5 separate regions of the Homo sapiens genome follow, and all the other regions are reported to be linked to region 5. The links are microRNA targets in miRTarBase. Many come from high-throughput screens and were not tested one by one. Region 5 holds a microRNA gene; each other region holds the end of a gene's coding sequence. Distances are between the middles of the regions.
Evidence for each region. Region 5 holds the annotated microRNA hsa-miR-28-5p (AAGGAGCUCACAGUCUAUUGAG, at 867-888, opposite strand). A microRNA usually pairs through its seed, bases 2 to 8, with sites in the 3' UTR of a target mRNA and lowers its output. Matches are read on the target gene's strand: a 7mer-m8 pairs with bases 2 to 8, a 7mer-A1 pairs with bases 2 to 7 and ends in A, and an 8mer does both.

Region 1 (3,134 bases), 80 Mb from region 5:
CGAGCATGCCCTTGGGGTGAATTACCAGGGTCTGCTTTCTGTAATGCAGATAATTGCCTCAATTCCCTGCCTCCCTTTGAAGTTAATGAAGAGTTGGCTAAGGCCTGCTTACCTCTGGAAGGGACTCAGCTTGGTTCTGGACATGTGTTCCACTGGTGAAAATCACAGGAAATTCACAGAACACACTGACATTCTGTTTTTCAGGTTCAAGAAGAATAGCATCCCCTGCTTTGAAAGGACAACAGCTGGAGAAGTACAAGGAAGGTGCTGTTTCATGGCCAAAAACTTAGGTTGCATGGAAACATTTTTAAAAACATGTTTAAATTGCTTTTCACACCATATAAACAAGGCAATTAGAAAAATAATTAAAGGGAATATCATTGCTTCCACAGTTAATGGGGATTTTTTGATCCTCAAATGCAAGTAAACTACCTTCTAATGCTTCACATGACAGATTAAATAAATGGAAGAACCTTTTCAATTCTGATGTTTAAAAAATGAATAAATACTTGATCCTTTGTCCATATTTCCTCTTAATGGGTAGGACTCATAGAAGATGTCCTTAGACCAGTCACGCTTCATGGGGACTAGGGCATGTTGGTGAATGGTTTTTACTAAAGTTAGGCAACTTTGGCTTGATTCACCCCTAAATCTATGAATGTATATTGTGAGCCAGCAGTGGTAGAATGGAAGTCATAAGATCTCCTCAGCATTGTGATATAAATATAGCTATAGTTAGGCAATTTGAACATGTAGGCAAAACTCTCCTAATCAACACACATGTAGGCTATATGCTGGTACATGCTTTAAACATGGAGGTAACCCCACACGAGACATTCAGTGACAGGTAATATGCTGGATTTGTGCAGTACCGATTTGGCTCAGCTGGAGGAACATGTCCCGGAATTCCTCTCTCTCATGGTTCTGGATTGGAGTAGGTCATAAAGAAATTTGCATTAATTTGATCAGCAGCTATTTTATACTCATAAGGTCAGTGTACAGACCCAAGCATGGTGACAGCTTGAAAATATGACTCCAGGCCAAAAAGGGGAGCTAGAAGAGACCAGAGACAGCTCCCTGGACCCAGAGCTCTTCCAGCTCCTGCCAGCCTCCTCCTTCAGCTTTGCAAAGTACTGGCCAGGTGTGTGTGCAGCTCCATGGCAACCAGCATCAGCTTTTCCTGAGATCACACACAGCATTGCAGTGGAGGCCGTGAGACAGACATGGGTTCTGTTTGTTCTTATGGACTTCCCTTCATCCTTGCTGCATTCACAGTCGACCTACAGTGACTTCAGGCCCAGAACCAGATGCAGAGGGAACAGCCTGGCCTAGACTTCTCCACCAGCACCCACAATTGTGTAAGGCTGAAGCTCTATAATAAATCTTTATTCTGTCATTCTCTGATTCTGCCTCCCTGATCCAACCCTGACTCATATGGGTAGCTTGACGATTAATTCAGGGACTCAGTGGTATCAGAGGACCCAGGTTCATTCTTGTCGGAATCTCTTGTCGCCGTAAGAGGACTTCAGCAGTCCTGAGCATTTTCTCCCCATACGATAACCTGTCTCTTCTTAAAATGGAGAAACACTTTCCCAGAAACAGACCTCTGGAATAATTTTCCTCATACCCTAGTGAGCAGATTTCTTTATCTGCTTATGCTGAACCAGTCTAGTGGCAAGAGGACTGCAATTGTCAGGGTTGGCTCAGACAGATCAAAGTGGATGCTCTTGAAAAATCAGGGTACCATTTTGAGCAAGGTGAACCAAATTTGAGTTTTGTGGTTGGCGGAGAGGGATGCACAGCCACAGAGTGAACTAGCAGGTATGTGTGTCGGGCTGTATCCAAAGCAGTCGCTCCTTCTTACCATCGGTCTTAACGCAATGAGAAAACAACATGAAACATTTAACATGGAACTTTTCTAGGGTTTTTTTTTTTTCCTGGAATAGTAATTTTTTAAAACTTCAGTAAAAAATGTTTGGAATTATCCTTTAATAAGCCAATGTTTATATTCAGGAAACATCTCTATATCCCAAACCTTTTCTTAGAAATTTGCTGTTGTCATATTACCAATCCTGAAGTTAGGATGCTATTGTTTCTCCACACCCCAGGCACATACTCAGTAAAGTAAAACTTCAGCTTGGGGATGCATCCAGTTTTGTTATTAAGTATCATGTTCTCTCACTAGGACACAATTTTTAAAAAGGAACCAAGGCTAGGGGGAAGCAGAGATGGTAGACAAATATTATCTCAATGGAGTTTTTCTTCACAATGGAATTTTTTTAAAAGATATCTAAGTTATATTTATTTTTTTAAAAAAAATTTACTTTAAGTAAGTTCTGGGATACACGTGCAGAACATGCAGGTTTGTTACATAGGTATATGTGTGCCATGGTGGTTTGCTGTACCTATTGAACCGTCCTCTAGGTTCCCTCCCCCGCCCCCCACCCTGCAACAGGCCCTGGTGTGTGTTGTTCCCCTCCCTGTGTCCATGTGTTCTCCTTGTTCAGCTCCCACTTATGAGTGAGAACATGTGGTTTGGTTTTCTGTTCCTGTGTTAGTTTGCTGATAATGATGGCTTCCAGCTTCATCCATGTCCATGCAAAGGACATGATCTCATTCCTTTTCATGGCTGCATAGTATTCCATGGTGTTTGTATCACATTTTCTTTATCCAGTCTACCATTGATGGGTATTCGGGTTGGTTCCATGTCTTTACTATTGTAAATAGTGCAATAAACATACATGTGCATGTGTCTTTATAGTAGAATGATTTATAATCCTTTGGGTATATACCCAGTAATGGGATTGCTGGTTCAAATGGTATTTCTGTTTCTAGATCCTTGAGGAATCGCCACACAGTCTTCCACAATGGTTGAACTAATTTACATTCCCACCAAGAGTGTAAAGGCATTCCTGTTTCTCCACAGCCTTGCCAGCATCTATTGTTTGACTTTTTAATAATTAACATTCTGACTGGAATTCTTAATACTTTGCTATTTGTGATAACCCATCACAACATTGTAGCAAAAACAGAGTTAACTACATACAAGGAGAGGATTGTGAAACTGAGGTCAGATAAAATTGGACCAGGTGGCAGTTACACCACAATTCAGAATTTGCTTTCTCTTATAGAGT
Region 2 (3,134 bases), not on the chromosome of region 5:
ACAGCAGATTCGTGAGATGATGAGATGTAGTCAACCCTCGATCCGAAGTGAGCCATCTCTGGTTGGGATGGGGAGTGAGGCTGGTGGGGGTCCAGGTCTGAGGACATCACCTAAACAAAGGGCCACTCAGAAACTTCGCCCAGTCTTGCCTGGACATCCAGGTATGCTCTGCAGGGCAGGGAAGGCCAGGATGTCCAGAAGAAAACATAAAATGGAGGGGAGAGGGGAGGAGAAAGAAGTGTCAGACAAGTATGCGATTTCCTCCACTGTTTTAACTAGAGTTTCAAAGATGGACTTCACTGGACTATTGAATACGCACGAGAATCACCTGGCTAGAAGCTTACTGAGATCACAGGTTGGGAAATCTGACATCTAAACCATACCTGACACTGGGGAGAGGACAAGGCTTCAATTCTTTTGCTGATTTGATATAGTACCATAGGGTTGTTGAGGTAGTGGTGGGAAATGTGCTTACAGGGATTGCAGCCAGGTGGGCAAACTGCCCATTGACCTGAGATACCTTTTTTCTGTTTAAACTTCTGTTTTCAAAGCTAAATGTTAAAAAAACAAACAAACAAACAAAAAAAACCCCACAAACTTGCCTTTATTAGATACCCATCGATAACTTTTAAATGCAAACTTACACTAAAAGATCATATCATATACCAAAAACTAAAGGTCATGACACTAAAAATATACAACAAATAACCGGCTTTGGTTACAGGAAACAAAAACAGGCCCAGGATTCACAGATGTGTTTACTGAGTCTCCCTGAATTGACTGGGAGTAGGGGGCCTGGGCTCCTCTTTTGTGGATGGCGCTGAATGTCAGAGGGTTGGGGACAATGGGTGTGTTTGACCAGTCCTTCCTAAGTGCTGCGGGTGCAGCCATCTGACTCTATGAGCTCACCTAATCCATTTTGGAAGGGGGTGAGTTGCTACCACACTCTTGGTTACTTCATCCTTCTCTGGAAATTGAGTCCTAGACTTAGATGAGGGAGGATGGGCTGGTAGCAGCCTCCCCCATCCCATTCCACCCCACCCCACCCCTATGGAAAGGCTTTAGTGGCCTTGGGGTTATATGGAGCTGTGGGCAGGAAGCCCTGCACCACTCCTTCTCTTCCAGGGGAGGGAGGGAGGGAGCACAGGCAGCCCCAGTGTCTGGCCTTTCAAGGGTCTGCTGTGCCTGGTAGTTGTTTAACCCCCTCTTCATCTGACTCCACAAAGGGCTGGAGCCATCTTCAGTCTCCAGAGTTCTTGGTGATACCAGTTGTCCCTGTTCTCAGAGAAACCTTACTTCCTCTGGGTCCCCAAACCCAGCTTAATTAGTAGCAAGTAGCTTTCCTTCAAACTGTTAGTGGCCTCTGGCTCTGGCCAGCAATGGCTGGGTCAGTGCTCAAGGGGAAGTGGAGGCGAGGGGTGGGAGAATTCACACACATGGTTTATTTGGTTAAGAGAGGCAGTTGCGTTAGTTGAGGTGATCCCTTAGCAGCAACATTAGAGAAATCCAAGAGATTTATGGAGCTCAACTCAACCCAGTTCTCCACCTGGTCCGACTCAGGAGCCAGGAGCAATCCCTCTCTACGAGAGAGGCATCCAATGAAGTGCAAGCCCAAAGTGGCCAGTTCATCTCCAGCCTTGCTTCTCCTACATCCCAACTCCAAGATTGAAAGGCTTTGGTGCCTCTGTGGGATTTTCCGAGTGGAATCCATTCCCTGGCCTCAGCTGTCACCCTCTCTTTTCCAGAGACAGATCCATGTTCCAACCTCACAAACTTAACGTGCTAACACAGTACACATCTAGCGCTTTCACAAGGACAACCCCTCTCCCTTGCTGGTGTTCTTCCCAAGAAGGACAGATACTCATTTCCAAAGGAGTGTGTGGCAAGGGGCTTCCTCACTGCCCCAACCTCCCTCTCCTCTCTTCCGTCCTCCCCCATATCCCCATCAAAGTGATTGAAAAAATGTTTAATTAACTTGAGCTCAGTTTAAAAGGTTAGGAAACTGGCAGGGATCCAAATCCATGTTACACAGGTGATGTCGTTAATTTAATTTGCTTTTCGTGCAGTAATCTGGATAATTACTCAGTAGTTACTGGCAAAAACGTTTTCTTTTCACTAAAAGATGGAGTCTGGCTGTTTGACTGCATGAACCCCATTGGCTGAGCCCCAGCAAGGCCTGGGGAGCTGAAGGGGCCCAGCAACCCACAGGGCCAGCTCAAAGGACCTCCAGGAGTGGGTGGCCCTGGCCCCCATCCCTGCTTCCAGGCCTAGCAGAAGCCCAATGCTTCCCTGCCTCTATCCCCCTGGGACGGGCACAGCACGAGATCTCCTTCCAGTTTCCCACACTCTTGATTGTATTTCAAGACAGAGAAAGATGAAGGGTGGGGAAGATACAGAAAAAGAATCCAAAGAACCAAATCAAGAAAAAAAGAGAGAGAGTCAAAAAGGTGGGGGTCATGATTAAAAGCTGGAGGAAGAGATGAGAGATTAAACGACTGGATTTGCTTTTGCCCCCACCCTCCTGAAAAGGGGTCCAGAAAGAGGAGAGAGAGATGTGGATGTGATGAGACAGGGGCACGCACGTGCATGTATGACCTGTGGACATACATGTACGGACACACCGGCAGGGCAGAGACACATGGCAGAGACGGTAATACCTCAGAGTGAGATGGCAACGAAAGCACCTGCTCAATGGTATCCATTTGTAAAGGCCGTTGCAATCAAAGGTCCCTAAAATTGCACAATTGTTAAGGTCATCAGTGTGCTATACATGGGAACAGATTGTCATATTCTGGGAAAGGAAATTATCTCTAGGACTAGTTCTGTGGTTGCCAGCATGAATATGTAATTCTGAGACACCGTGCCATGAGGGGCCAGGATGACATCCTCCTCAGCTCCAAATCCCTAGTCCCCACTCCCTCCGCCCCTACCAAGCCTATCTGCTTACCCCGGGGGAAACCAAAAGCCAGATTCAGAGGCGTGGGTGGATGGTGGGAAACGGGGGTTTGTGCCCCCAGTGATGGGCATGTTGCCCTGAACCCCAGAGTGCAAAGATAAGTCTCTGTCCGCAGTCCCAACGGCTCTAGCTGGGGAGAAGAAATCCCAGTGCAGACAAACTGGGATGCTTTCTGGTT
Region 3 (3,134 bases), not on the chromosome of region 5:
AAGGCTCAGAGGTATGAAGGACATGGACACAGGTTAGCAGCAGAGCCAGGATTGAAAGTCAAGTGTCCTCACCCCCAGCACAGGCTCCTCCTGCTGCCCAGGGTCTGCAAAGCTCCAGGCTGTCCCAGTGCCAGGACACTGTCATCCAGGGGCAAGCGAACGCAGTATCCTAGGCAGGTTCCCATAGCCCTGAATCTGGCTCTCTGGAAGCCTGTGCGCCTCCTCTCAGTCTTTCAAAATGGAAGGTAGTTAAAACCTCAGTCCTATTTTTCTTTTCTTTTTTTTTTTTCTTTAGAGACAGAGTCTTGCTCTGTTGCCCAGGCTGGAATGCAGTGGTACAATTACAGCTCATGGCAACTTCGACCTCCTGGGCTGAAGATCAAGTGATTCTCCCACCTCAGCCTCCTGAGTAATAGGACTACAGGTGTGTGCCTGTAGTTAATTTTTTATTTGTGCAGAGACAGGGTCTTGTTATGTTGCCCGGGCTAGTCTTGAAATCCTGGCCTTAAGCGATCCTCCCACCTCAGCCTCCTGAGTAACTAGGACTACAGGTGGGTGCCACCGCACCTCGCTAATTTTTTATTTCTGTGCAGAGACAGGGTCTTGCTATGTTGCCCAGGCTAGTCTTGAAATCCTGGCCTTAAGCGATCCTCCCACCTCAGCCTCCCAAAGTGTTGGGATTACAGGCATGAGCCACTATGCATAGGTGGCTATTTTTTGTACAAGAAAGCCAAGGCTCAGAGAAGGTAAATGTCCTGCTCAGGGTCATAGGGCAGAACTATGTCCTGGGAATGGACCTCTGATCCCTGGCCTGGTGCCCATCCAATTGAGTCAGCCAGAAACAGCATTCAGAACTCTTTTCCTGGTGCCAGCTTCTTACTGGGTCTCAGCTTCACAGTCTCTAAAATGGGTTCATTAGTAGAGGCCCTAAACAAGCCTAGGTTTGAGTTTTCTGAGGCAAAGAAATTGAGTGATGCTTCCAGTGGGAGGAGCCCCATACAGTGACCAAAGGGCCTGGCTTTCTGGACAACCAACTTCACTTTACCCAGAGGGAAACTGAAGCCAAGGAGGGAGCCAAATGGCCTTGGGGATCCAGTGATTTAAGGACGGTGAGATAAGGAGGGCCAGGCTTCCCTACCCCAGCCTGCAACATCCAGGAGAGAATCCTGCTGGTTGAGTCCTGGGGCCCACCCTGCTTCCAAACACTTCACAGAGAAAAAGCTTTTTACAAAGACATTTATTTTCCCCAAAATATACCCCCAGTTTACAAAATCCCTCCGAGTCCCACATTTAAATTAGAAGTCCTCACATCTTCCATTCCTGGGGCAGGGAGAGATGACATCCGGAAGGCATCAGAACGTCTGAAGTCTCACTCTACCAGAGGCCAGGAGCTGGCCAGAGGCAAGCCAGGAAAAGACTGCCCCAGCCCCAGAATAGCACCATGGTGGGGGTGGGGGGCAGTCCCCTCGGTGTCCCCAAAGCATTCCTGGCCCTGCCCTGCCCCAGGCTCTGCCTTTTCTGCTGCTATGAAAGGTCCAGAGGGCCTTGGTGCCTGCCCACCTGCCCACACCTGGACAGACATTTTGGACACCACCAGATTCTCTAGCCGTGGCGAGGGGCTATGTCCCTCTCTCCAGGTTTCCGCCCCAACCCCATGCTCTGGGTAAGAATTATGGGTGGGATGGGGGTGAGGTATCCAGGAAGCCTTGAGCCACAGAGGAGGTGTGGAGCAGGGAGCCAGGCAGGAGCCCCCTGCAAACCGCAGGGTGCAGTGTAGTTAGTTGTCTGTCTCCCAGCTGGATGGGGAGTCCTTGAGGGAGGAACTTTATCTTCCCACGCAGGGCCCCCAGCACCTAACACAGTGCTGACATCTGTAGTTGCTCAATAAACATCAACTGAATGGATACATGAAAAGAAAGGAACAAAGAGGTGAGAAGGCAGAGGGACAGAAGCTGACCCCCAGGGGCCCCATCACAGACCCCTGGAGAACCAGTGTGACCAGCACATGCTTCCGTGGGGAGGATGGGCAGGGGAGAGGGGCACTGCAGAGGAGGCTGGGCCAGGGGGGAACCACACGTGTTCCAGCACGTGCACCTGCAGGTCTCCATGCACAGCTGTGCATGTGGTGGGCGCAGAGTGCCCTGTCTTCACTTGGGGCAGGGAGGGAAAAGGCCAGTATTAAGGCTAGAGCAAGAGGAGGAAGGAGGGGAAAGGAAACAGCTTCTAGACTCCAGGAGATGTTGAGGCCGCACTGTCCCTGTCTGAGAAGAAAAGATTCTATGCAGGTGGAAGCAGGGCTGAACATGATCACTAGTGTATCACGGCCATTGGAGAAACAAGGCCGGGGTGACTATGCATCGTGTCTTTGGTGAAATAAGGCAGGGGGTCAGTCAGTCTGAATATTGCATCTTTTGGAGAAAAAAGGCAGCCAGATGGTCCACGCAGCACTGGAAGAAGAGGGTGGTGATGTGGTCAGTGTACTGTGTCCCTAAGAAATGTATGTACTGTGAAATAAGGCAGCAGGCAGGATGACTTAGAGAACTAAGGTTGTGGGTGGTCTGTTCATTGTGTCTATAAGAAAAAAGGCAGCAGGATGACTTGGGAATCATGTCCATTGGAGAAATAAGGCTGCACAGTGGTCTGTGTATCGCATCCTTTGGAGAAGGAGCCCACCTGTCAGAGCAGGATGCATCTGTTGGGGGCAGGGCTCACAGTGCAGCCCCATTGCAGCCAGAGGGTAGGAGCTGTAGGGAGGGGTAGCAGCTCCCTGGTCCTCATGGTCAGGCTATTTCTTGTCCATCATCTTCATTTCATGATGGGAAGAAAAAAAAGGGAAGGGAAAAGCATTAGATGCCAGAAGATCTATTTTTGGGATTATGCCAGAAGCCCAAGCACCTGGTCAGACTTCAAGTGGGGAGTGTGTGTGAGACAGCAGCCCAACGGACAGCCCCCGTGCTGACCACGGCCCTGGAGGCCCAGACACAGATGCAGGTGCCAGGCACGCCGGGGCACCTGAGGGGGACCACCTCACGCAGCCCCCTCTCAGTACCCACAGGCCCACAGCCCGATACACTTCCCTCCACTCTCCCTCTACGTGCAACACTTTTCCCTTCTCATCTCCTGTTTGTCCATCC
Region 4 (3,134 bases), not on the chromosome of region 5:
AGGACAGTTCACAATCTAGTAATAGCCATTGCCTACCTGTTTTTCTTGGACTCTTGTTGGAAATGGTAGGATCATGATTTCAGTCCTAACAGAGATGCTTGTGGAGGGACAGCCTGTCCCTTTCTTGGGGCAGCCTCAGTGGGGAGACCATAGCACTCCTAATGGAGTCACAGATAGTATTCCAAAAGGAGTTTGGTCCTGGAGTTGAGTAATTACACGCAGGGAGGGACCTCACAACAGCCAGACTGTTTCTCCTGCTCACTTAACCCTGTGTTGCCCCACACAGTATCGTGAAGAGCGCTTCCGACTGACGAGCGAGAGCACCAACCAGAGGGTCCTATGGTGGTCCATTGCTCAGACTGTCATCCTCATCCTCACTGGCATCTGGCAGATGCGTCACCTCAAGAGCTTCTTTGAGGCCAAGAAGCTGGTGTAGTGCCCTCTTTGTATGACCCTTCCTTTTTACCTCATTTATTTGGTACTTTCCCCACACAGTCCTTTATCCACCTGGATTTTTAGGGAAAAAAATGAAAAAGAATAAGTCACATTGGTTCCATGGCCACAAACCATTCAGATCAGCCACTTGCTGACCCTGGTTCTTAAGGACACATGACATTAGTCCAATCTTTCAAAATCTTGTCTTAGGGCTTGTGAGGAATCAGAACTAACCCAGGACTCAGTCCTGCTTCTTTTGCCTCGAGTGATTTTCCTCTGTTTTTCACTAAATAAGCAAATGAAAACTCTCTCCATTACCTTCTGCTTTCTCTTTGTCCACTTACGCAGTAGGTGACTGGCATGTGCCACAGAGCAGGCCCTGCCTCACTGTCTGCTGGTCAGTTCTGGGTTCACTTAATGGCTTTGTGAATGTAAATAAGGGGCAGGTCTTGGCCCTAGAGGATTGAGATGTTTTTCTAAATCTTAGAACTATTTTTGGATAAATTATATATTTTCCTTCCTAGTAGAAGTGTTACTGCCTGTAACTAGCTCAAAATACCAATGCAGTTTCTGCATTCTGGGTTTTGTTTTTCCTTTTTTTTTTTTTTTTTTTTTTTTGAGTTTTGCTCTTGTCGCCCAGGCTGGAGTGCAATGGCGTGATCTCAGCTCACTGGCAACATCTGCCTCCCGGGTTCAAATGATTCTCCTGCCTCAGTCTCCTGAGTAGCTGGGATTACAGGTGCCCGCCACCACGCTCAGCTAATTTTTGTATTTTTAGTAGAGATGGGGTTTTACCATGTTGGCCAGGCTGGTCTTAGACTCCTGACCTCAGTTGATCCACCTGCCTCAGCCTCTGCATTCAGTTTATTCACATATTTTTGGTAACTCCCATGGCAGCTCCTAGGATTTCAGCGGTCTGTGGGCCAGAAAGCAGGCACCAGGGCTGACCTCAAGGCCGTATCAGAGGGCCAAGCAGAGTTCTTTTGGATACCTGCTTTTCATCCCACAGGGCCTTAGAGTCAGAGGTAAGGTAGCAACAGAGCTAGAATGGGGCAATGCACTCTTACCCTCCTTCTCAACTTTTATTTAAGCTGTGCTAAATGTTTTCTTCAAGGGAACCAGATTTAGTTCTTTACAGAATTTTCCAGTGAAATAAAACATGTTGTAATAGCTGTGTTTGAGATGAAATAAGAGGTTGTGGGTAGAGGGGAGGCACCTAAAGGAAAAGAGGAAAGGTGCCTGGGCTACCTATGCAGATAACCTGGAGTGGACTTCACTGTGGACTCGTGGTACTAAGGCTTGGCCTGGACAGGCAGTCTAGGGGGTATGGGAATACACGGTGTGGTTGTTCAACTATTTGCAAAGGTCAACCAAATAGACCACATGTTCGCAAAGTATCATCTGAGGAAATTAAGTACCTTCTTAGCCCTCTCAGTCATAAATTTGAACAAATTTTAATACACTTCCCTCATGCCCTTCTATATAAAACTTAATACCATTAGTTCCCCATTCTTGACATTTTATTTCAGTTTTTATTATATATTTATTTGAAATATTTATTAAATTATCTGACCTACAGAACTAAATTCTTCTCCTTTTGTTATTTCTTATGTCCTATACCATATATGTACCTATTTATATATATATTTATGTATTTTTAAAATTTTTATTTATTTTATTTTTTGAGACAGTCTTGCTCTGTCGCCCAGGCTGGAGTGCAGTGGCATGATCTTGGCTCACTGCAACCTCTGCCTCCCGGGTTCAAGCAGTTCTGCCTCAACTTCTGAGTAGCTGGGATTACAGACACCCACCACTACACCCGGCTAATTTTTGTATTTTTATTTTATCTTATTCATTTATTTATTTTTGAGATGGAGTCTCACTCTGTCGCCCAGGCTGGAGTGCAGTGGTGCAATCTTGGCTCACTGCAACCTCCACCTCCTGAGTTCAAGAGATTCTCCTGCCTCAGACTCCCGAGTAGCTGGGATTATAGGCGCCCGCCACCATGCCCAGCTAATTTTTGTATTTTTAGTAGAGACAGGGTTTCACCATGTTGACCAGGCTGGTCTTGAATTCCTGACCGCAGGTGACCCGTCTCGCCTCCCAAAGTGCTGGGATTACAGGTGTGAGCTGGCCGGGCACAGGTGATGGGGTCTTGCTCTGTCCCCAAGGCTGGAGTGCAGTGGTGCCATCACAGCTCAAAGCAACCTTGAGCTCCCAGGTTCAAGTGATCCTCCTACCTTACCCTCCCAAGTAGCTGGTACTACAGGTATACTCCACTGTGCCTGGCTATTTTTACTCTTAAAAATACATGTGGGCTGGGCACGGTGGCTCACGCCTGTAATCCTAGCACTTTGGGAAGCCAAGGTGGGTGGATCCCTATAGCCCAGGAGTTCGAGACCAGCCTGGGCAACATGGCGAAATCTTGTCTCTGCAAAAAATACAAAAAATTTAGCTGGTGGCACATGCCTATAGTCCCAGCTACTTGAGAGGCTGAGGTGGAAAGATCACTTGAGCCCGGGAGGTCAAGGCTGCGGTGAGCCATGATCGTGCCACTGCACTCCAGTCTGGGCAACAGTGATCCCATCTGAAAAAAAAAAACAAAAAAAAAAATGCAATTTAGGGCCAGGTGGGGTGGCTCACGCCTATAATCCCAGCACTTTGGGAGGCCAAGGCAGGGGGATCGCCTGAGGTCAGCA
Region 5 (3,134 bases):
AGACTATTAGGAACTGTGAAGTGAGATAATGAACTGTGAAAATTCTCCGAAAACAATGAAATGTCAAACAAACCTGGAGGACATTATGTTGAGTGAAATAAGCCAGGCACAGAAAGATAAATATTGCATGATCTCACTCAAGTGTGGAATCTAAAAAAGTTGATCTCATGGAAGTAGAGAGTAGAATAGTGGTTAACACCTCCTCTAAGCCACTGTGAGAAGGACTCCATCACTTGCAAATACAATTGATTACACAAAGCACAAGCAAGTCAACTTTTCCTGCCAAGAAGATTTGTTGCCCTTGGTGAAATAATAGCATTCTGGCCAGAAAGGAAATTTCATCATTTTCCTATGACTTCGATTCTGACTTTTGCAATATGCATGCCTGGGCTTCAGAGTCCAGAACCCAATTCTGGCCCTGTTAGTTTACAGCCTAGAGCCAGTGATTTGATCACTGACTGAGCTGAGGATAGATTTGCTAACTACCATAGCTGGGTGCCAGGCCGACCCCAGGCTCAAATCCTCCCAACACTGAGGCTGCATAGACAGGCTCTCCAGCCAAGCAGGCAGCAGAAGTGTCCTGAATGTTTACCATGTACCAGGCACAGAGATAGAGGAGGAAATAGCATACACAGAGCTCCTGCTGTGTCAATCACATCTCATTCTTTTCTCGTTTAATCTTTCCCTGATGAGGTAGGCAGTATTAGCTCTGATTTTCAGAGCAGTTAACAGATGTGAACAAAGTTAAAATAATAGAGGCGGGATTGTAATCTAGGATTAACACTGAAATTTAAGCTCTTTTTCAGATGAACGAAAGTGCCTGCCCTCCAGGAGCTCACAATCTAGTGGGAAAGTCAGAAAGGTAACTCAATAGACTGTGAGCTCCTTGAGGGCAAGGACCATTTTAAATTTTTTCTTGTATCTTCAGCATCAAGCATGTTGTCTACCATGCAAAAGGCACTTAATAAGTGCTTGCTGAATAGACAAGCCATATTTAGATGTTGCCCTTCATAAAATACAAACCTAATTATATTACTCATCTGACTTCACAAACCTCTTCTAGCTCCTCTTTGTCAAACTCCTGAGTACTACTTAGAAAGTCCTTGAAGGGCCTGCCTTCATAGTCTCATCTTCTGTGATTCCCTTCCACATCCTCTGTGTACCACACTTCCATCTTCCAACTATCTTGGCATATAGGTGGTGTTCAACAAATGTTCATTGAATGGGCAAACAAAGCCAAGAAGGGATATATCTGCATAACATCAGAGGCATCAATATAATGCCTTATGAACACCAAGGGTAGATTTATCCAACTGAAGGCATCAGGAAGGTTTCACAGAAGACAGGACAATTGATTTGAGTCATTAACTCTAAAATCTCAAAGGCTAGATGACATTGCATAGGGAAAATTCAATCCTCTTTTGCTATTAATTAGGCAAATGACATCATAACAAAACATTTTTCTTTAAACCAGAATATGAGCTGTGCCAAATTCCGTCATCTAAAGGATATGGGTTTAGGCCAAAAGCCCATCATATAGATTATTGTTTTTCTTCTCCCAAGTACTTTGGAAAAACTAAGTCTCATTTGGCATGCAGTGCCTCTCAGCAAGGTCATGGTTCTTCTGCCGTGGTGCCTGGGGCAGTTAAGGTAAGAATTGTGTTTCAAAAAAATACCTCAGACACTGTTAAGAATAAGATAACGTGGTGAAACCCCGTCTCTACTAAAAATACAAAAAAATTAGCCAGGCATGGTGATGGGCGCCTGTAGTCCCAGCTACTCGGGAGGCTGAGGCAGGAGAATGGCATGAACCCGGGAGGTGGAGGTTGCAGTGAGCCGAGATCGTGCCACTGCACCCCAGCCTGGGCGACAGAGCGAGACTTCATCTCAAAAAAAAAAAAAAAAAGAGTATAAGACAGCTGGTTAGACAGGATGACATGGGAATATTCAGAGCTTTGGTCAAGAAATCAGACCAATGAGTCAGTAAGAAAGGGTCATTGAATTACTCCATTTTCACACTGCTATAAAAAACTTCCCTGAGAATGGGTAATTTCTAAAGAGGTTTAACTGACTCACAGTTCCGCATGGCAGAGGAGGCCTCAGGAAACTTAAAATCATGGCAGAAGGGGAAGCAGGCACCTTCTTCACAAGGTGGCAGCAGAGGGAGAAGCGAGCAAGAGCAAGGAAAACTGCCTTAAAAATCTCAGATCTCATAAGAACTCCCTCACTATGAAGAGAACAGCATGGGGGAAGGGCCCCCACGATCCAATCACCTCCCTCCCTTGACATGTGGGGATCACAATTCAAGATGAGGTTTGGGTAGGGACAAAGCCAAACCATATCAGCTAGTAAGAAAGTGGGGGACACTCCCAAATTAGCACTTTCATCCTTGATCCCAGCATTAGAACAGACTATGGTATACCAGGGTGGGGGAGAGAGGAAATCTGCCTCCATCTAGATCACAGGCATCACTGGGTTTGCTCATCTGCAAAATAAAGCAGCTGAAACCGAACTAGATGATCTCCATTACCTGGAAATTGGAAATGAGGGAGCATGGAGAAAAGAGATAAGCTATAACCAGATATATTCATTTAAAGACTCATACACAAGCACAGCAAAGCTGTTGATATTGTGTCCTTTCAGACAGCCTGACATTGAAGCCCTCAGTCAGCACAAATATTTCACTTGAGCACACACATACCAGGTGCCTTAGCTTTTCTCTCAAGTTGAAGTCTTAAAGCCCCTGCCTAATATCTGTTTGAAGATTAGAAGTAGCTTTCACATCCTTGATATCAAGGTCTTCACTCCTTGTTTTTTGTGCTGCTTTTAAATAGCACACTGAGATAACAAATGCAGGAGAAGCAAGGCTTCAACTAGATGCACACTTGTTGAGTGCTTGTTTTATGTTGATTCTTCCCATACTCACCATCAGAGCTTTCCCATGGCCTCCCTCGGCTTCCCATCTTCTATCTAAATCATAGATTCTTAGTCTTGGCTGCCCATCAGAATCACTTGGGAAGCTTAAAGCATAACAGTGACTCTACCCACAAGAACAATTAATTCAGTATCTCTAGGGGTGAGGCCTAGGAAGAATATGGTTAGAATATGCCACAGATAATTCTGATGGGCAACGT

Region 1: miRTarBase lists MYH15 as a target of hsa-miR-28-5p. Seed matches in the 3' UTR shown: 7mer-m8 at 1,097-1,103.
Region 2: miRTarBase lists MSI2 as a target of hsa-miR-28-5p. The part of its 3' UTR that is shown has no 7-base or 8-base seed match.
Region 3: the mRNA of CD276 is a reported target of hsa-miR-28-5p. Seed matches in the 3' UTR shown: 8mer at 2,739-2,746 and 7mer-m8 at 1,387-1,393.
Region 4: miRTarBase lists TMED4 as a target of hsa-miR-28-5p. Seed matches in the 3' UTR shown: 8mer at 1,331-1,338.

What each region holds. Positions count from the first base shown.
Region 1 is chr3:108,378,630-108,381,763 of GRCh38, reverse strand. It overlaps MYH15 (myosin heavy chain 15), which reads left to right. Exons shown (of 41, transcript NM_014981.3): 41 at 205-1,396. The coding sequence ends at 219. It overlaps LOC124900545 (a long non-coding RNA gene), which reads right to left and starts at 224. Exons shown (of 2, transcript XR_007095998.1): 1 at 113-224.
Region 2 is chr17:57,676,583-57,679,716 of GRCh38, reverse strand. It overlaps MSI2 (musashi RNA binding protein 2), which reads right to left. Exons shown (of 14, transcript NM_138962.4): 13 at 2,658-2,730; 14 at 1-168. The coding sequence ends at 2,689. Among named protein-coding and RNA genes, the nearest start is that of CCDC182, 67 kb to the left of the region's middle. RefSeq lists an enhancer at 3,006-3,134.
Region 3 is chr15:73,712,603-73,715,736 of GRCh38, reverse strand. It overlaps CD276 (CD276 molecule), which reads right to left. Exons shown (of 10, transcript NM_001024736.2): 10 at 1,223-2,803. The coding sequence ends at 2,781. Among named protein-coding and RNA genes, the nearest start is that of CD276, 30 kb to the right of the region's middle.
Region 4 is chr7:44,576,781-44,579,914 of GRCh38, reverse strand. TMED4 (transmembrane p24 trafficking protein 4) reads left to right here. Exons shown (of 5, transcript NM_182547.4): 5 at 287-2,021. The coding sequence ends at 436. Among named protein-coding and RNA genes, the nearest start is that of TMED4, 3.9 kb to the left of the region's middle.
Region 5 is chr3:188,686,548-188,689,681 of GRCh38, reverse strand. MIR28 (microRNA 28) reads right to left here and starts at 901; the gene lies at 816-901. The region is part of intron 7 of LPP (LIM domain containing preferred translocation partner in lipoma); the gene reads right to left.